2 separate regions of the Homo sapiens genome follow, and region 2 is linked to region 1. The links come from fine-mapping of genetic effects on gene expression. A gene starts in region 1. The other region holds a variant in brackets. All regions are shown on one strand. Distances are from middle to middle. Region 1 holds the start of FKBP1B (FKBP prolyl isomerase 1B). Region 2 overlaps ITSN2 (intersectin 2).

The links.
Region 2: its variant is fine-mapped to the expression of FKBP1B in whole blood (INTERVAL, PIP 0.95).

The regions. Positions count from the first base shown.
Region 1 is chr2:24,043,653-24,054,053 of GRCh38, forward strand. FKBP1B (FKBP prolyl isomerase 1B) reads left to right here and starts at 6,089. Exons shown (of 4, transcript NM_004116.5): 1 at 6,089-6,234; 2 at 10,250-10,297. The coding sequence starts at 6,198. WDCP (WD repeat and coiled coil containing) reads right to left here and starts at 3,739. Exons shown (of 4, transcript NM_025203.3): 1 at 3,662-3,739. It also overlaps the pseudogene RNU6-370P. RefSeq lists silencers at 5,951-6,250, 10,187-10,378.
Region 2 is chr2:24,341,589-24,351,989 of GRCh38, forward strand. The region is part of intron 1 of ITSN2 (intersectin 2); the gene reads right to left. Among named protein-coding and RNA genes, the nearest start is that of ITSN2, 14 kb to the right of the region's middle. The variant TC/T (reference allele first, on the strand shown) is at 6,138.

The DNA.
Region 1 (10,401 bases):
ATTTCTTCTCCAAAACATCTCTCACCAGGCCACCAGTGCTTCCCTGTCACTGAATCTAAATGACATTTTTCAGCCTTGTTTTACTGAGTAAGTGTCAAAGGCAGAACTTGAGAAGTTGTCTTCAGACTCTAAATCCAATGAAATGTATTCTCTACCAACCTGGTGATTTGCTTATCTGTAAATTATTTCGCATATCTCCTTGCTAGCTTTGTCCTTGCTCTTAGGATCTTTCACTTAAAAAAAAAAAGGGTCTATTATGCTTTTATATATGATGTCAGATTCAGTGGTTCTGCAGCGGCTTGCTAAACGGAGAAAAAAGTCCAGTCATTACTAATGAAGAAAACTGTGATCTCTGTCCCACTGGTCTTATGAAAGATAATAATGTTTTCTCCCTAATATCTACTTATGTACTTTAAAAAGAATTTTATTGATAAATAATGCCATGATACACTTTCATGGGCAGAGAAAATTCCTAATGGGCCAATTACATCCAAGTCGATTTATATATTTTAGGATACCAAATTCTGTCTAATGTCAATGAGGGTGTGTGTGGCCAGGGTAGCACAAGACAAGGATTTGGGAATAAGAGAAAAACAAACATAAGTTTACTGAGGTTTTTTTTTGGGGGGGGCGTGGGGGCACAGTCTTGCTCCGTTACCCAGGCTGGAGTGCAGTGGCATGATCTGGGCTCACTGCAACCTCTGCTTCCTGGGTTCAAGTGATTCTTGTGCCTCAGCCTCCCAAGGAACTGGGATAGGGGCCCACCACCATGCCCAGCTAATTTTTATATTTTTAGTAGAGACTGGGTTTCACCATGTTGGCCAGGCTGGTCTTGAACTCCTGACCTCAAGTGATCCTCCTGCCTTGGCCTCCCAAAGTGCTAGGATTACAGGCGTGAGCCACTGCATGGGCCAGTTTACTGAGGTTTTTAGAAGAATGAATTTTAATATTGTCATCTTCGGTAACAAGAAGAAATGTGGCACATTTTTCTCAAAAACGCAGTGATAATTACAAAAATCTGCTCCATTCCTTTCTACTCCTGTGTTAGCCCAGGTTCTGACTTCTCCCTTTTTATTAGGGTAAAACAAGGAGAGGTCCCCTTGATACCAGTCTCTACTTTCCAAATGAGCCTGCATACTATGTGTTGTTGGGCAGAATTATCTTTAAAAAAAAAAAAAAAAAAAAAAAAGCACAGCGGTGATCATTTTGCTCTTCTGCATAAACACCCTTGATGAATCCCCACATCTACAGTATATAAAAAGCCTCAAAATGTCTTAACAAGGCAATTAAAACCTTATATTATCAGATATTGATATATCTTTCTAAGTTTATTCTCTGATCATAAAGGGCATGCTGAGGAATTTGGAATCTTGGGGGAACCAGCATATATTCAAGTAACAATATGCAGAATGGACCTGAGAAGGAAGAAAGTTGACAAGTAATTTGAATGCCACAAAGTGAAAATGAAGCAAGTTTGCAACTATTTCAGTAGAGAAAGAAGGCCATATTCAAGAGATGCTTTTAAGGCAGATGGAATAGACAGTGATATCGATAGGATATAAGTAGTGAGGAGGAAAAAAGAATTAAGGATAACACCCAGATTTTTAGCTTGAGAAACTGCTGAACCATTAACCAGAGCATGTTTCAAAGGCAAGGAAGGCAGGGCAGGCTGGGTGTGGTGCCTCATGCCTGTAATCCCAGCACTTTGGGAGGCTGAGGCAGGTGGATCATCTGAGGTCAGGAGTTCGACACCACCCTGGCCAACATGGTGAAACCCTGTCTCTACTAAAAATACAATATTAGCTGGGCGTGGTGGTGTGTGCCTGTAGTTCCAGCTACTTGGGAGGCTGCAGCAGGAGAATCGCTTGAACCCGGCTGGCGGAGGTTGCAGTGAGCCGAGTTTGCGCCACTGCACTCCAGCCTGGGTGACAGAGCAAGACTCCATCTCAAAAAAAAAAAAAAAAAAAAGAGAGAGAGAGAGGAAGGAAGGAAGGAAGGAAGGAAGGGGGAGGGGGAGGGAAGGAAGAAAGGAAAGGAAGGGCAGGCACAGTGGCTAACACCTGTAATCCCAGCACTTTGGGAGGCTGAGGTGGGAGGATCACTTGATGCCAGTATTTCAAGACCAGCCTAGGCAACACAGGGAGACCCCAATTCTACAGAAAAATTTTTAAAAATGAGGTGGGTGCTCACTTTGGCAGCACATATACTAAGACTGAAATGATACAGAGCGTAGCATGGCCCCTGCACAGGGATGACTTGCAAATTTGTGAAGCGTTCCATAAAAAAGGAAAATAAAAAATAATAAAAATAAAAATAAAAATTAGCTGGGTGCAGCGTCCCACACCTGCAGTCCTAGTTACTATGGAGGCTGAGAGGATTTGAGCTCAGGAGTTCAAGGTTACAGTAAGCTATGATCACACCACTGCATTCCAGCCTGGGTGACAGAGTGAGACCCTGTTGGGGAGGTGGGGGTGGGGGCAGTAGGGGAGGAACGTGTGTAGTATGTGACAAATTGAAATTAACATGTGCTTCATGTAAGATGTCTACATGGTACCAATGTACCTTAGGCAGTCAGAGGTAAGGATTTGGAAATCACTGACATAGGGTTAATCATTAAAGTCAAGGTAGTGGAGAACCTCACTGTATAAGATCAGAGGGCCAGGAGGACCAAGGTTTAAATGCTCTTCAGGCATTCCCCAACGCTACTGATTTTGCCTGAAACTAATTGTATACCTATTGTTTCACAATCTCCAGAGTATAAGTTTTTTGGAGAACATGAAATCAAGAACCCTGGGTGTTTTAGGAGGGAAAAGACCACTGTATTAGTTCAGGTCTCCGGAGAGGTGGTCAGAAAACTAAGAGCCGGTGCTCAGTATATAACCATTTAATTCTGTTTTTCATCTTCTTTAAAGACAACTCATGACGAGAATCAAGGGATTCAGGTGAACTGGCATTTCCAGCAGGTTTAAACAAAAGTACATCCCTCCCCCAACTTGTTTTCCAAGTTTATTGTATTTCCACTATAAAATGATTTCAAGTTCTTTACACTTATTTGGAAACAAAAATCATACACAAGAAAAAAATTAAGAAGAGTTAACGAAAAAACATTCATCCAAAGAAAATTATGACTAATCCCTCTAGACTCTTCTATGCATAGTTTGGCTGTCAAACTTTTTCAGTTATACTGTGCAACTTTGTATCACGGTTTTCATCTAACATTATATATTAGCATTTCCCTATGTTATTTAAAAGTTTAATAAATTAGTTTTAGAGGCCACTTCACATACACTCAGTGAAGTGACATAATGTACTGAACTGCTCCTAGCTGTACCCAACTTTATCCCGCTACCCGCTATAAATAAAGCTCGGACCGAGGTCTTAAGGCTTAAAGCATTTCCTGACTTTGGATGACTTCCTTGGGACATATTCCCAGGAGTGTTATTCACGAGTCACGGTCATAATCCCTCATTTACACCCACCCCTAGCTCGATCCTCATCCCGCGACCCCTCACACGCGGCCCGCCCCATTCTCCTCATCCTCTCTGCACGCCTGAATCTCCTCCTTCCCGCCCCCTACCCACCAAGAGCCGATCCACTTCCCTCCTGACCCCCTACAGCCTCCCCACACCCGCCAGGCCCGGCAGCAGTGGAGATGAAATACCTTAGGTCTCACTGCCTCACAAAAACACCAATCTCTCTGTGGCCGCCCAACATCACGCCGCCGCACATAAGAAGTTCTGGGCAGCCACCGGAAGCACCGGCCCTCAGTCCTCTGATAGGTGGGCGGTGATATCGGTCCTCTGATAGGTGGGTGGTCCTCTGATAGGATAGGCACGCTCCGAGATGGCCCCGTCTATTGGCTTTTGAATATGCACATTAGCAGAGGGTTCGTCCCACTGGCCAATAAGCTCTGGCTCTGCCGCACGGATCGCTGGGAGTGGTAGTCCCCGTAAAACCACCGACCGCAAGCCCGCCACATTTTCCCTCCCTTAAGCACTTGAGCTCTTTCCCCACTTCTCGTCGGTTCTCTTGTCTAAGGAGTCCAGGAGCCCTAGGATCACCACGGCTTTTTAACCTTCTTTAAAATCTGATAAAATCTCTCAGGAAAATGTTCTTATCTGTACACAAAATACTGTGCATTGAGCTGAAGCCGCTGCATGGGCCTGTCCCAGCTACAAATCCCTGTTCTACCCCGACCCTAAGCGTGCCTGCTCTGGCCGCAGCCTATGGATTTAGTGCGTCCCTTAGGCTTCTTCAGACCTATGAGGAATTCCAGGTCCTGACCCTCACAGTACAGTCGACAATCATCTTTCTTTAACAACACAGCCAGAACACCTTCAGGGATGCAGACAACCTCATCTGGGACCTAAGCATCCGGGAGAGTGGGGATGAGGAAATGGAGGAAGAACACCCTTGGGGCTCATTCTGGACCAGTTTGCCAGGCTTTTCTCCCCATGCCTATCTTCCAGTGCCACTCAGGAGAATCATATCTTCACATCAGTTTTTATGTTTTTCTTTTTCTTTTCTTTTCTTTTTTTAAAAATAAAGATGGCATGCCTGTAATCCCAGCACTTTGGGAGGCTGAGGCGGGCGGATAACCTGAGGTCGGGAGTTCGAGACCAGCCTGGCCAACATGGTGAAACCCTGTCTCTACTAAAAATTTAAAAATTAGCCGAACGCTGGTGTCTCACGCCTGTAATCCCAGCTACTTGGGAGACTGAGGCACGAGAATCGCTTGAACCTGGGAGGCGGAGGTTGCAGTGAGCCGAGATTGTGCCACTGCACTCCATCCTGGCGACAGAGTGAAGATTCTGTCTCAAAAAAAAAAAAAAAAAAAAGGAGAGAGAGAGAGACGGGATCTCGCTATGTTACCCAGGCTGGTCTTGAACTTCTAGGCTCAAGCAATCCTCCTGCCTCGGTCTCCTACAGTGTTGAGATTACAGGTGTGAGCCATTGTTCCAAAAATTGATATACTTGGCCTCACATCAATTTTTGGAACAATGCAGGTAATAATGAGGGGGAAAAAATTTTAAAAGTCCCAATTACCCTTTAAACAAATATTACCTCCTCCAAAAAATATTTTTCTAGATTCCTGAATGTATTTTTTGGTGGAGGAGGAACTCAAAGTAGAATTCATTTACATATTCATTCATTCATTCCACAGCACTAATCACTCCATGCAGTAACTGTGTGTCCCCGTCCCTCTCAGACTTAGTACCTGGAAGACAGCCAACCTGTCTTAATTCTATTGGTATCCCCAGGGCGCATTTCTTTGCCTTGAAAATTGAGTACCCAATAAATGTGCGTCGAGCAGAACTACACGAGATGGAGAACAGGGGTTTAGGGGTATGGGGGAGAGTCAGCAATTACTGGTGTCCTCCCTCCCTCCCCCAGCTCTGCTCCTACAGATCCAGGACGCCTAGCGAGGGTAGGAACCTCTTCTGTGCTTCCGCAACGCTCTGAACTGCACGGCACTGAGCGCATCTAATTAAAGTGATGGTTTCATTAGATAGCAACACAGCGAGACCCCGTTTCTACAAAAAATAAAAATAAAAAATAAAAGATTAGCTGGGCGTGGTTGCTCGCGCCTCTAGTCCCAGCTACTTGGGTGGAGGCTGAGGAAGAAGGATCGCTTGAGCCTAAGAGTTCGAGGTTGCTGTGAGCTATGATCGCGCCACTGGACTCCAGCCTGGGCGACAGAGCAAGATCCTCTGTCTAAAATAAAAATAAAAATAAAATGATGGTTTAATCGCCGGCCTTTGCCCCTTCTGCCCCCCACCCCCCACAAGTCTGTAGGACTGGGTTGACTTCCCAGAGCTTACTACAGATTAGATGCTAAATAAATGTCTATTGGACGGATGCGCGAATGAATGGATGGATGGAGGATGTGGTTGTGCTTACCACGCTCCCTGGTCAGTGGGTTAATGTCGTCAGGCGGGGCCAGGCTCGCTAACAGCCGGGCGGGGTCCCTTCCCCCGGGCCCCGCCCCGGCCGACCCCACCTTTCCGCGCGGCTCCGCCCCGCCGCCCCCTTGCCAGTGGCCCCTCCCCGCGCAGGTCCCGACTCCAGCCGCACCTCCTCCGGCTCTGCAGTGGCGGCGAGGAGGCGAGCCGGAGCGACGGCGGGGCTGGGGCCGGAGCCGAGCCGGGGTCGGGCAGCAGCAGGGACCCCCCAGAGGCGGGGCCTGTGGGACCGCTATGGGCGTGGAGATCGAGACCATCTCCCCCGGAGACGGTACCGGGCTCCCTCCGGAGCCAGGGGAGGGGAGGGGTCCCGGGGCGGAGCCCGGAGGGCGGGGGTCTGATTCGGAGGTGGCGTGGAGGGTGCTGAAGGGTCGGGGGGCTGGATGGGGAAGGCAGGCGGAGACGCCGGACGGGATTCTTGGGGGTCTAGGAGACCATCCTCCGCCATCCTCTTCCGCGCTCACCTAGGGGAATGTAGGCGGCAGCTCGGAGGCGGGGGTCTGCGGCCCGGAGGCGGGGGTCTGCGGCCCGCCACCGCCCCGGGCTTCTCCTGTCGCGGCTGCAGTCGTTCGGTTATCCGCTGCTGCTGATACCCCAGCCTGGGTTTCGGCTTCGCTTTCCCTGCCCTACTCGGCGAGCTCTGGAAAGCAGGACCTGCTCTCGGATACCCGCTGCTCGGGGACCTCCTCCTAGCGCGTCCCCCGCCGGGCCTCCCCTCGGTCGCTTCCCTGCGGGCCGGGCTGTGAGCGGCTGTGGGGACAGACCCAGGCTGGGGAAGGGGGAAGCGCTCCCTTGCCCGCTTCCGGATCTCGCTTTATCCTGCCGCCGCTTTCAGACTCCCTGGCCACCCTGTCCACTCCCATGGCCTCCACATTGAAGCTTCTAAGCCCAGCCCTGCGACCTACGGCCGAACCTCTCCCTGGACGTCCCAGGGTGCTCCCTGGTCAGCAAGTCCAAAACAGAACTCTCGCTTCCCACCTTCTCTCCTAAGTGATCCTCTTTATCCCCCTTCCGTGTCTCACTTTCCCAAGTCCTTGTATTACTGGGTCTGGGTGTGCAAGGAATAGCCATTTCTTTATTTCTTGAAATTTAATTAATACCAAAGCCCCCATTGTCTGCAGGGTTTGATGGGCAAACTTCATATCAGATATTATTAATATGAACAGCTCCCCTCCCCAGGAAATTGGATAACTTCTTGGCTCCAGGCCATCTTCCTTGTCCAATCCCAGCCACTACTTCAGATATCCCCTGGAGTACAGGCTTCTTTGCCCACGCAGGAAACATTGCTGCTGGGTCCCAGAAAGCATCTCCCTGAGGCCTTTTCATCCCTCAGCAGCCCCTGAGCTAATCTCCCCATCTTCAGTCTCTCCTCCCTGCTTTCAATCTCGTCCCCAATCTCATATTCACTCCCTTTCTATATCATAGCCTGAAGACTCTTCTTAAAATGCAGTGGCTCACGCCTGTAATCCCAGCACTTTGGGAGGCTGAGGCGGGCGGATCACAAGGTCAGGAGTTCGAGACCAGCCTGACCAACATGTTGAAACCCCGTCTCTACTAAAAATACAAAAATTAGCTGGGCATGGTGGTACGCACCTGTAATCCCAGCTACTCGGGAGGCTGGGGCAGGAGAATCACTTGACCCTGGGAGCCAGAGGTTGCAGTGAGCTGAGATTGTGCCATTGCACTCCAGCCTGGGTGACAGAGCAAGACTCTATCTCAAAAAAAAAAAAGAAAAAAAATGCATGTTTGACTATGCCCCTCCCTCAGGCAGAAGATGTTTTAATGATTCTTCCCTCTCCCCCAGGAGGGGCCTTTGGTGCTATGGTCTATTCTCATCTTCCACACTAGAGCTTCATCTCTCACCACCTGTCCTAAGCCCACCACTAACTTTTTCCTCCAGCTTTCCCAAGCTGCCTGCAAGTTGTCAAACACACCACTCGTTCAGCAAATATTTATTGAACGTGTGTGCTAGGCCCTAAGGTGACACAGTTGAAACAGACAGGGTTCCCGCTATTGCTGGACTGAGGGCCTTTGAACATGTTACATGTTGTTCCCTCTTCCCAGATGGTGTTTTTTCACTTCCTCTGGCAAACTCTTACTTGTCTTTCAAGACCTGGCTTCACCATTCTCTCCTCTATGATGTTTTCCTTGACTTCTGTGGTCAGTTAGCTGCTCCCTCCTCCAGGATCCCATAGAGTCCTCTAAATATCGGCTCTGTGGTTAGGCTTCCTTAGGCTTTGTATCCAGCCCCGTAGCTTTAAATTCCAGCCAAATTTATACCTCCAGTGCAGACTCTTCATCTGCCTACTTGCAATATAAACTCAGATGTCTAATAGGCATCTCAAGATTGCCACCCGCACAAATCTGTTCCTCCCGTCTTCCCTATCTCAGGAAATAGTTGCACTATTCATCCAGTTGCCCAAACAGAAAACCCAAGCATCGTTCTTGTTGTCTCCTTTGTCCTCATCCTGGACCCCATTTCCAGTCTGATTGCATGACCTGTCAGCTCCGCTTCGAAAATATGTCTCCAATCTTTCACTCTCTTCTCTGCTGCCACCACCTTAAATCAAGCTATCATTGATTTCTTGTCTGGATTATTGCAACAGACGCCTAACCGTCCATCCTACACATAGCAGCCAGAGTGATGTTATAAAATCTTAATTCAGATTATGTCATTCTCTGGCTTAAAACCCTCCAGTGGTTTCCTATTGCACTTAGTATTAAATCCGGCTCTTCAAGCCCTGCATGATCCATGTCCTTCCCACCTCTCTCCTCCCTCCCTTCTTTCCAGCACCTAGCCTCCTTGCTCACTGCAAATGTGTTGATTCTGTGCACTTGTTACTCCTTTCCCAAGTGCTATTTCCCAGTATTTTGCTCATCCTTCAAGTCCCAGCTCCAGGGGGCACCTTCTCCAAGAGGCCATCCTGGACCACTCTGTCTGAAATGGCCTGTCCCACTGCATCTCCCTTTAATACATCATTGTGTGTATTTTCTTTAGAGTATTCATCATAATCCATAATCATTTTGTATATTTAAGTATTGTCTCTGTCCATTAGAATATAAACTCCAGGGCGGGTTTGGTGGCTCATGCCTATAATCTCAGCACTTTGGGAGGTTGAGGTGGGAGAATCTCTTGAGCTCAGGAGTTCAAGGCCAACCTGGACAACATGTTAAGACCCTGTCTCTACAAATTTTTTTTAAAAAAATTAGCTGGGCATGGCAGCATGCACTTGCAGTACTAGCTACTCAGAAGGCAGAGGAAGAAAGATTGCTTGAGCCCAGGAAAGGTCAAGGCTGCACAGAGCCGAGATCATGCTGTTGCACTCCAGCCTGGGTGACACACTGAGACCCCTACTCTTAAAAAAAAAAAGTAAACTCTAAAAGAACAGGGATAGAGATCTTGTTTGTAGTGTTCACTGCTGTATCCCTGTGATCAGGCACAGGCTTGGCACACCATAGGTACTCAGTAAATATTTGTGGTTTTGTTTTGTTTTGTTTTGTCTGTTTGTTTATTGTGACAGGGTCTTGCTCTGTCACCCAGGGTAGAGTGCAGTAGCATGAACACAGCTCACTGCAGCCTTGACCTCCTGGGCTCAAACAATCCTTCCACTTCAGCTTCTTCAGTAGCTGGGACTATAGGTATGCGGCACCACACCCAGCTAATTGAAAAGATTTTTTTTTTTTTTTTTTTTTTTTAGAGATGGGGTCTCCCTATGTTACCCAGGGTGATCTAGAACTCCTGAGCTCAAGTGATCCTCCCACCTCAGCCTCCCAAAGTGCTGAGATTACAGATGTGAGCCACCATGCCTGGCCTCTCAGCAAATATTTGTAAATTATTGTGTTTATTCATCTTTGATGGATGGATTATAATCTGCATTGTAATCTGGTATTTGTGTGTCTGTTTCCCTACCTTCCTCATGAGTTCATACATTGCTCTGCATGTCTGAAGTCTGGTCCAGGCCTGGCACATAGGAGGCCAACTGTAAATGTCTGTGGAATGGATGATGTGAAGTAAAAGGGGCAATCAAAGAAAGTGGGGGTGGGGTGGTGGGAAAGCCCAGGAGACAGCAGAATTGAGAAAATTGAGGGGGTAAAGTAAATCCAGGCCAGAGAGGTGACGTGATTCATTCTGGCTCGTACAGGGCCCAGAGCCAGAACTAGGGCCACAGGCATCTCCATGGCATGGAGGGGAATGCAGGCTGGAGCTCTTGGTCAGGATCATACTTAATGTCCCAGGTGTTTTTCCAATATCCTACTCCTTCATCTGCCCTCATGTCTCCCTGCAGGAAGGACATTCCCCAAGAAGGGCCAAACGTGTGTGGTGCACTACACAGGTAAGTCTCACCCCCTCAGCCCCCACCCAGTCCTTCCCCTCCCAAGGCAGGGCTGTCCTCTGAGCTTCTCTCCAGAGGTGCCTGCCTCTGGATCAGGGCTAAAG
Region 2 (10,401 bases), 300 kb after region 1:
GGGGAAGAGCCTGGGTGTGGTGCCTCACACCTATAATCCAAGCACTTTGGGAGGCTGAGGCAGGCAGATGACATGAAGTCAGGAGACCGGTCTCACGGTCAACATGGTGAAACCCTGTCTCTATTAAAAATACAAAAATGCGCCGGGCATGGTGGTGAGTGCCTGTGAGGCGGGAGAATAGCTTGAACCTGGGAGGTGGAGGTTGCAGGGAGCCAAGATCGCACCACTGCCCTCCAGCCTGGGCGACAGAGCAAGATTTCCTCTCAAAAAATACATAGGAAAAAAGGTAAGATTTAAGAAAGGGAGGCAGAGTTATTATAAGGCTTTAGTTTTTAGGTGACAGAACAAAACTATTTTTAGACAAAAAAAAGAAATAAAGATTTAATTTACAAAAAGGAGATGGGAGAGAAGTTACCTAATGGAAGTTAGGGCCAGAAAAAGAAGTAGTAGACAGCTCTAGAACACGAAGTTAGAACCTGGGACAGATATTTCTGTCTCTAAGAATGAAGTTCAGGAAGGGGAGTAAGAATGAACAAAGGCATACATAAGTTTAGAAGCAGAAGAAAGAGCGATTGAGAAGGTACAGATTTTCTTCTACCATTTTTTTTTCTTTTAGAGATATATAATCTTTTTGAGACAGTCAATGTTGCCAAGGCTGGAGTGCAGTGGCATAATCACGGTGCACTGCAGCCTCGACCTCCCAGGCTCACGTGATTCTCCCACCTCAGCTTTTCAAGCGGCTGGGACCACAAGAGCACGCTGCCAAGCCCGGCTAATTTTTAAAATTTCTTATAGAGGTGCAGTCTCCCTATGTTGCCCAGGCTGGTCTCAAACTCCTAAGCTCAAGTGATCCTCCCACCTCAGCCTCCCAATGCAAGCTTTCTTTGTCTCTCTTCTTTAGGCTCAGACAACAGTCCAAAGGGCAGAGCTAAGGACAGACTCCTTGATCTCGTAGGCCCTCAAGTGTCTAAGCACAAATTTCTCTCCTCTTCAAGCCATAAAAGAGAAAGACACATGCAAATCAGTTCCCATGACTCAACCAGATATGTGCATTTCAGCTTGCATTCAAATCAGCTTAGGCCCTACACATCAAAACATTTGTTAAAATGAATGAATGTGAAGGAAAACATTCTAGGCAGAGGTTACTCTGCAAAAGCAGAGTAACTAGTGTGGTCTGGAAAAATAGAAGATTACTTACTCACATGAAATAGTGAAGGGCTGGCCTGGCACAGTGGCTCATGCCTGTAATCCTAGCACTTGGGAGGCCGAGGCAAGTGGATCACCTTGAGCTCAGGAGTTCAAGACCAGCCTGGGCAACACAGTGAAACCCCTCTCTACCAAAAATAAAAAAAATCAGCCAGGCGAGGTGGCATGTGCCTGTGGTCCCAAGTACTCAGGAGGCTGAGGAGGGAGGACTGCTTGAGTCTGTAAGATGGGGGTTGCAGTGAGTCAAGATCGTGCCACTGTACTCCAGCCTGAGTAACAGAGTGAGACCCCATCTCAAAAAAAAAAAAAAAAGTGAAAGGCTAACAACAATGCAAGGAACCATAACAATAGATACAAAAATAAGTACAATGTTAATGCCTAGCTGATACAAATGTCAATTAGCATAAGATCCTTAAAACAACCTGAAAAATTAAACATTAAAAAATATATATATAATAGAAAGTGAAAGTCCATTACCAAGAAAACAATCATTAGCAGTTTTGAATAGATTGTTCCAGATATTTCCTATTTATACACTAGCAAATACCACTTTTACACAAATGAAGTCATACTTCATTGTTCTGCTTTTTTCATGTTACCAATTTTTCACAGTGAATAAGTAATCTTCTATTTTTCCAGACCACACTAGTTACTCTGCTTTTGCTTGTACTGTAACCACTGCCTAGAATGTTTCCCTTCATGTTCATTTTAACAAATGTTACAATTAATGCTACAATAAACATTCTTCATACATGTGTGTAAATATAGGTCTGTGGACAGATATGTGCTTCCAAAGATAAATTCTAGAAGTGGAAGTAGCAGGTTAGAGAGCATGAACATTCTAATTTTAATAGATAATACCAAACAGCCTAAATTGGACTTTACCTATAAAGTCTCTCAATACAGGCTGATAGCATAATACCAATAAGATGCGGTTTAGAGACACAACCCTCTAACTCTGACTTAATTCAAAAGACATTTTAGAGTACCTATACCAGTAATATACTCCATTTCCTCTAAGCAATTTTCCACAAACATTATTTCCCTTAACTAAGCTTTCCTCTCCAAATAAATGTAATTTATAAGCACATGCTCCACAAAAATCTCAAACATGAAAAACTTACTAAGCGGACTCCACAGACAGGGGAGGAGGGGTGAACCTGAAGACCCAGTCCTGATTACCACAGTTAACAGTTTGGTATTTGTTTTTCCAGATTTATTTTATGCATATATAAACAAACATGTTATTTTTCAAACCCAAATAAAATTATGCTAGCCAATTAATATTCTATTATTTTCATTACACATATTACAGATATCCTTCCATAGCAATATATAATACATCAATCATATCCTTTTAAATAGGTGTACAGCATTTTATTATATGGATATACCAGAAATTAAGCTATCTTCCACTGGTGGACATTAAGACGGTTTCCAGTTTTTTGCCTAACAAACCATACTACTTTGAACATCCTCATCCTCATATATATACTGAGTATTTAGGTAGGACAATACTTCTAGAAGTAGAATTAATGGGTATCAAGTTGCTTTCCAAAATTTATTAATAGTACCATTTTATATTCCCATTGGTGTGTAAACATACTTGTTTCTGTATAATCTTGCCAATATTTGGTATGAACAATTATTTTATGTATTGCCAACCTGAGAGGCAAATTTTTTCTAAATTTTCATTTCTCTGATCATTAGGGAACTCAGCATTTTTCATATATCTATCATGTATATTTCTCCTATGAATTGCCTATTCATTTATTTTGCCCATTTTCTATAGCATGCTGTTCAATGGAAATGCAACACAAACTACATAATGTAATTTTAAATGTTCTAGTAGCCACATTTTAAAAAGTAAAATTAGGCCAGGTGCAGTGGCTCACGCCTGTAATCCCAGCACTTTGGGAAGCTGAGGCAGGTGGATCACCTGAGGTCAGGAGTTCAAGACCAGCCTGTCCAACATGGTAAAACTCCATCTCTACTAAAAATATAAAAATTAGCTGGGCGTGGTGGCGGGCACCTGTAATCTCAGCTACGCAGGAAGCTAAGGCAGGACAATCGCTTGAATCTGAGAGGCAGAGGTTGCAGTGAGCCCAGATTGCGCCAGTGCATTCCAGCCTGGATAATAGAGTGAGACTACATTTCAAAAAAATAAATAAAAAGTAAAAATAAACGGGTAAAATCTGTATTAATATATTTTAATTAGTTCATATCTAAATATTATCACCTCAACATATGATCAGTATAAAAATTCTTATGACATTTTACATTTTTGTACTGTCTTCAAACTCCAGCTTTTACACTTATTATACACTTAGAGTACTTCTCAATATAGAACTAGCCACATTTCAAGTGCTGATTAACCACATATTAAAGGCTACTGTATGGGATAGTGTGGTTCTATAGGATCTTTATATGTGAGAGCTCAGATTTCCCCCATTTCAGCCTTTTTTCCCCTATGTTTTTATTTTTACTGTACAAATAATTTAAAAGCAAAGGCTTCAAATAATGTACAATTATGAAGAGCAAAACATGACAGTCATTCTTTATTACCTCACTCACAGTACCATCTCCAAGATAACCATATCAGCCACTGAAGTACATTCTCACAGCCTATTTTTACATATTATATAAACGTATATATACCCATATGTATTTTACATTGTCTAAACCTTCTTCTAAGATAATACCCATCAGAAATACCACATTCGATTCTACATAATATTCAACAGGATGGGTAGATCAAAATTTATTTTTTAATAGACACATAATACATTAATACTCTCATTGTAAAAACTTAAAACATACAAATAAAGCCAATTCTTTTGACCATCCTTCCCCATCAGTCTCTGAAAATACCCAGTGCTGTTAACAACATGACCTGTATCCACGGATCTTTTTCTATGCATTACAATAATAGATATTATATTAATAGTAAGCTTTTACCTGTAACATATGCTATAAATGCTTTTAATCTAGCTTGTTTGTCTTTTAATTTTAGGGCATCTTTCATTATACCAATTTAAATTTGTTGGTCTTTCTTTTATGACTAGTGAGTGTCTTGTCATACAAAGAAAGGCCTGTCTCATACCAGGTCTTATACCAGAAAATTGTCCTATATTTTATTCTAGTACCTCTATGATTTAAGGGTTTTATGTATATATTTGATCTACGTGGATTTTATTTTGGAGTGAAGAAATGGATATGAGTCCAAATTGTTTGCGCTACCCTTCTACCACCACCACTTGCGATGTCTAGCAGTGTCTACCCTTCTTATCTCTATGACCTCTAAGACTGTATCCCAGCCCACAAAGATGGAAAGGCAGAAGGCTACGTAGAGTATAGCACAGAAAGGAGGGTGGGGGATTAACTGTAGAGAGGAAAAACTTGACAAACACTACTTTAGCCAGCTGGTCAAGGTCAACATCAACAGTCATAAAGCATGCAGACAGTATGTGCTCTTGATAAGATGAAAGTATCATTTTGCCTTTGTCATCTTCCTCCTAAAAATTCACTAACTTAGTCCAAGCATGACAAATCATCAAATTCCAATATACTTACAATATATTTATATATCTCCTACAATATCTGTCCAGTAACCTCTCAAAACTGTCAAAGTCATCAAAAACAAGGAAAGTCTAAGGAACTGTCACAACTAAGAGGAGCCTAAGGAGACATGACAGCTAAATGTAATGTGGTGACCTGGAACAGAACAAGGATATTAAATAAAAACTAAGGAAACTGAAATAATGCATAGACTTCAGTTAATCATAATACAATCAGTATTGTTCATTATTCCTAACATATGTACCATACTGATATAAGATATTAATAATAGTGGAAACTATGTGTGGGGTACATGAAGGGATATATGGGAACTCTGTTCTACTCGCTCCATTTTTCTGTAAATTTAAAACTGTTTAAAAAATAAGCCTATCAATTTTATAAAAAGCAAATACCTCAGAAGTAGAAGAGTATAGGTAAATATGTGCCTCTAATTTTGACCACATTCATTAAAAACAAAATACCCACTTGATCCACATGGAAATTTATCTTTTTTTTTTTTTTTTTTTTTTGAGATGGAGTCTCGCTCTGTCACCTAGGCTGGAGTGCAGTGGCATGATCTCGGCTCACTGCGACCTCCACCTCCCGGTTTCAAGTGATTCTCCTACCTCAGCCTCCCGAGTAGCTGCTACTACAGGCACCCGCCACCACGCCCAGCTAATTTTTTTTGTACTAGTAGAGACAGGGTTTCACCATATTGGCCAGGCTGGTCTTGAACTCCTGACCTTGTGATCTGCCGACCTCAGCCTCCCAAAGTGCTAGGATTACAGGCGTGAGCCACCGCAACCAGCAGAAATTTATCTTAAGAAAATATCTAAAGAACAAAAATAGATTGCAAGGATGCATAGTACAGTTTTACCAATATTAGAAAAAATACAAATAAGCTAATTTATCCAAAAATAGAGAAAGAAGCAAAAAATTAAAGTTACATTCACTCAGAATATTATTTACCTATTACAAATGACAATTTCAAGGCTATAGGAGATAGGATATGTTTATTATATAATGTAATTAAAAAAAAAATACAAATTGTAGGCCAGGCACTGGGGCTCACGCCCGTAATCCCAGCCCTTTGGGAGGCTGAAGCAGGTGGATCACCTGAGGTCGGGAGTTCGAGACCAGCCTGACCAACATGGAGAAACCCCGTCCCTGCTAAAAATACAAAATTAGCCATGCGTGGTGGCACATGCCTGTAATCCCAGCTACTCGGTAGGCTGAGGCAGGAAAATCGCTTGAACCCAGAAGGCGTAGGTTGCGGTGAGCTGAGATCGCACCATTGCACTCCACCCTGAGCAATAAGAGCGAAATGTCATCTCAAAAAAAAAATTGTAGAATATGAATGTAAATTTGGGTTT[TC/T]TTTTTTTTTTAATCTTACATGAACCACATATACCAAAATGTTAAACAATTAAAAACAGATAAGGCTAAACACGGTGGCTAATGTTTGTAATCCTAGCGCTTTTGGGAGGCCAACGCGGGAGAATCATTCGAGGCTGGGAGTTCAAGACCAGCCTAGGAACATAGTGAGACCCCATCTCTACCAATAATTTTAAAATTAGCTGGGTGTGATGGGTGGTGTGCATCTATAGTCCTAGCTACTCAGGAAACTGAGGTGGGAGGATCACTTGAACCCAAGAGTTCGAGATTACAGTGAGCTATGAACATGAGACTGAACTCCAGCTGGACAACAGTGAGACCCTATATCTATAAAAATAAATAAAAATTAAAAGTGAAAAACAAATACTAAGATCTCAGTAAAGATCTTACTCTTCAGTAAAGAGAAGGCTATGGTAAACTTACAACTAGTTTTTCAAATACTATGATTTTTTTTTTTTTTTTTTTTTTTGCCCAAGCTGGAGTGCAGTGGCGCGATATCAGCTCACTGCAACCTCCACCTTCTGGGTTCAAGCGATTCTCCTGCCTCAGCCTCCCAAGTAGCTGGGATTACAGGTGCCTGCCACCATGCCCAACTAATTTTTTGTACTTTTTGTAGAGACATTTTAGTAGAGACAAAGTTTCACCATGTTGGCCAGGCTGGTCTCGAACTCCTGACCTCAAGTGATCCACCCGCCTCAGCTTCCCAAAGTGCTAGGATTACAGGCATGAGCCACAGCACCCGGCAGCCCTTGTCTATTTTTCAGTCTATTATAAACAATAATAAATAACAAGTCTCTTTTACTAAAAGCATTTAACTGAAATTACCATTTCATCTCAAATCCAGTCATGCTACATCCAGTGCTAAAAACTACAGAGGAAAAGTACACTACAACAAACACACCCTATTGCAGGGGCAGACAGAGCCTGGCATCTAAGCTGATGCCATACCCCATAAGGGCCTGCATGGGAATAACTTTTATCTGTGATTGGTAGTTTCACATCTCAACCAAAAGGCTAACAGAATAAAAGAGTAAAGAAATTCAAAGTAGCAGCTAACGGGCAGAAAAGCATTCGTCCATTTTCCTATGCTATCAAGCCAATTTGAAGTTTTTTAAAAAATTACCAATATACTTCAATTACTACAAATAAAGTATACTATCGCTGCAAAAAAAATAGCACTTTTGAATATAATATCAAAAGAATCATCCAAGAAAGCAAACATAAAATAATAATAAATGTGGGCCAGTTGCAGTGGCTCACCCCTGTAATCCCAGCACTGCTGGAGGCCAAGGCAGGATGACAGCTTGAGCTCAGGAGTTTGAGACCAGTCTGAGCAACATAGTGAGATTCTGTCTCTACAACAACAATAATCATCATCATCATCATCATTATCATCATCATCAATATGCAATGAGAATTTTTTTAAAGCAAACTCCAAAATCTAACAGGGAAAAAAATTACCAGGAAAAAATAAAATAGAGATATTGTAACATGGAATTTGTTACACTAAAACCAATAGCATACCCAGAAAACATCCTTCACTCACAACACCACCTAACCAAAGCAAGGTCTCACTTCCCCCAAATATTTCAAACCACAAATTTACAAATTCTTTTCATCAACCTGAATTATTTAATTTGAGTGGTCATAGACTTTTTTATTTTAATCTGATAAAACCTATGGTTGTTCTCCCTGGAAAAACACAAATGTACAAAATATGGCACATAATTCTGAAGGTTTCACACATCCAAAGCCAACTGTAGACTTTCAGACAGTTCATGTGTTCCATAGCTTAAATGTTTAATGATAACATACACAAACCCTCATTCTTAAAAAAAGATAATGAAGTGGGAAAGACCCTTCCAATTATGTAATCCACTCATTCCCAAACTATTTTTTTAAAGGAATAAAAGAATGGCTACTCCATAGGCCGAGCAGCAGCCTCATTCCCAAACTATTCTAACCATCACCCACCTAAGTAAGACAAGAGATCCAGCCTACCTACCTCCTCCCATTTTCTAGTGCAAAAATAACTCCCTAAGGAAGAATTGTAGCAATGTAACAAGTACACAAGAGCAAAACGGTCCACAAAAATTTAAATGTAACATTAATTCTACAATTGTATTAATCCAAAAATAACAGCAACTGGAACCACAGCCAATTTGAGACAACACCACTGATGTAGTGAAAATATCTTCTGAGTGTGGGCATGCATAGTACTAATTTTCTAGTGCTGCCAAAGCATGGTATAGCTGACAGATTTCTTAGAAGAAAACTAAACTAGAGCCCTCGGTAAGTTCTAGAAACCAGCTAATTTTAGTTGTGAATACTAAATTTCAGTAATCCTTAGTAACTCAGATTATTGGTAGGTAGCCTATTCTAATACATAAATATCAGAGGTTATGGGAATGGAATAACAATAGCCCCTGAGAACTGAGGAGACGGCTTGTATTTCTGGTTCATGATCCATTAGGAAAAGCTTCTGATCTAGTGAGTGTCTTGGACCATACTGAGGAAGCATTAATCTAAGCCAATAATTTTCAACAATTTTTCCACTGTGATTCTGAGTAATGGCTCACCAATAGTATAAAATTAACCTCCTAAACTGGAACCCACATACATTGCTGGTGGGAATATAAAATAGATCAACTGCTTTGGAAAACAATTCAGAATTTCCTCAAAATGTTAAACATAGGTTACCATGTTAAGTCAGCAATTCCACCCCTCAGTATGAACCCAAGATAAATAAAAACATGTCCCAAAACCTGTACACAAATGCTCACAGCAGCATTATTCACAATAGCCAAAAAGTAGAAGCAACCGAGTGGAAGCAAATGTCCATCAACTACAGATGGATGAATGAATAAACAATAAACAAAATGTGGTATATCCATATAATCCATAAAATATTATTTGGCCATAAAAAGGAATGAAGTACTGATCTATGCTATAACATTGATGAATCTTGAAAACACTATGGTAAGTAAAAGAAGTGAGTCACAAAAGACCATATATTGTATAATTCCATTTATATGAAATGTCTAGGATAGGCAATTTCATAGACACAGAAAGTAGACTAGTGGCTACCTAGAGCTAGCGGTGTTGAGGGAGATGGAAAGTGACTGCCATTGGGTATAGGAGGTTCTTTTAAGAACGACGAAAATGTTCTAAAATTAGATAGTGATACTGGTTGCACAAGTCTGTGAATATACTAAAAAACACTGAACTGTAAACTTTAAAAGGGTGAATTTTACAATATGTATCTCAATAAAGCTGTTTTTAAAAAATCTATTCACGTGACATACAAGGTGTTTTAGGCTCTATCTTCCGCCTACCCTACCAGGTATTTCAACCTCCCCACCTCCACCTCCACTTGATCTTATTCCCATGCCTCCTCTCTTTGCACCTGTGGAACTACCTGCCTTCTGAGTGACACTTCTACTAATAATAGCTTCCTTTGCCACAGTCCCATTTTGTCTTGTATTATCTCATTAAACTACATACCAGCTAGTATTGTTACTTTTGTTTTCACGCCTGCCCCGCTTCTATTAGACTGTGAGCTCCTGAATGGCTCTTTAACTTCATATACCTAGTGCCCAGCAGTCACTCACATGGTAGGCACTAAAATATTCTTTAATAAGCACAGGTTAGCATTCTTTCAACTGCACAGAAGACAAACCCAGCAACTTGAGTTTGAATCCCAGTGCAAGTACTTCCTAGCTTTGTGGACTTGCACATGACATAGCTTCAATTTCCTAACCAAATAATGTGGATACAGTAGACCCCCTTATCTGCAGTTTCACTTTCTGAAGTTTCAGTTACCTGTGGTCAACCATGGTCTCAAAATACAAAATGGATAATTCCAGAAATAAACAATTCATAAATTTTTAATTGTGCACCATCCTGAGTAGCATGGTAAAATCCTGCATTGCCCGCATCTGTCCCAACCAGGATGAAAACCATCCCTTTGTCCAGGGTGTATCCACTGTGTCTATGCTGCCTGCCCATTAGTCACTTAGTAGCTGTCTCAGTTATCAGACCGACTGTCACAGTATCACAGTGCTTGTGTTCAAGTAACCCTTATTTTACTTAATAATGACCCCAAAGTGCAAGAGTAGTGAGGCTGGCAATTCGGATATGCCAAGGAGAAGCCACTTCCTTCAAGTGAAAAGGTGAAAGTTCTCAACTTAATATAGAAGGGAAAAAATTGTATGCTGAGGTTGCTAAGATCTACAGTAAGAACAA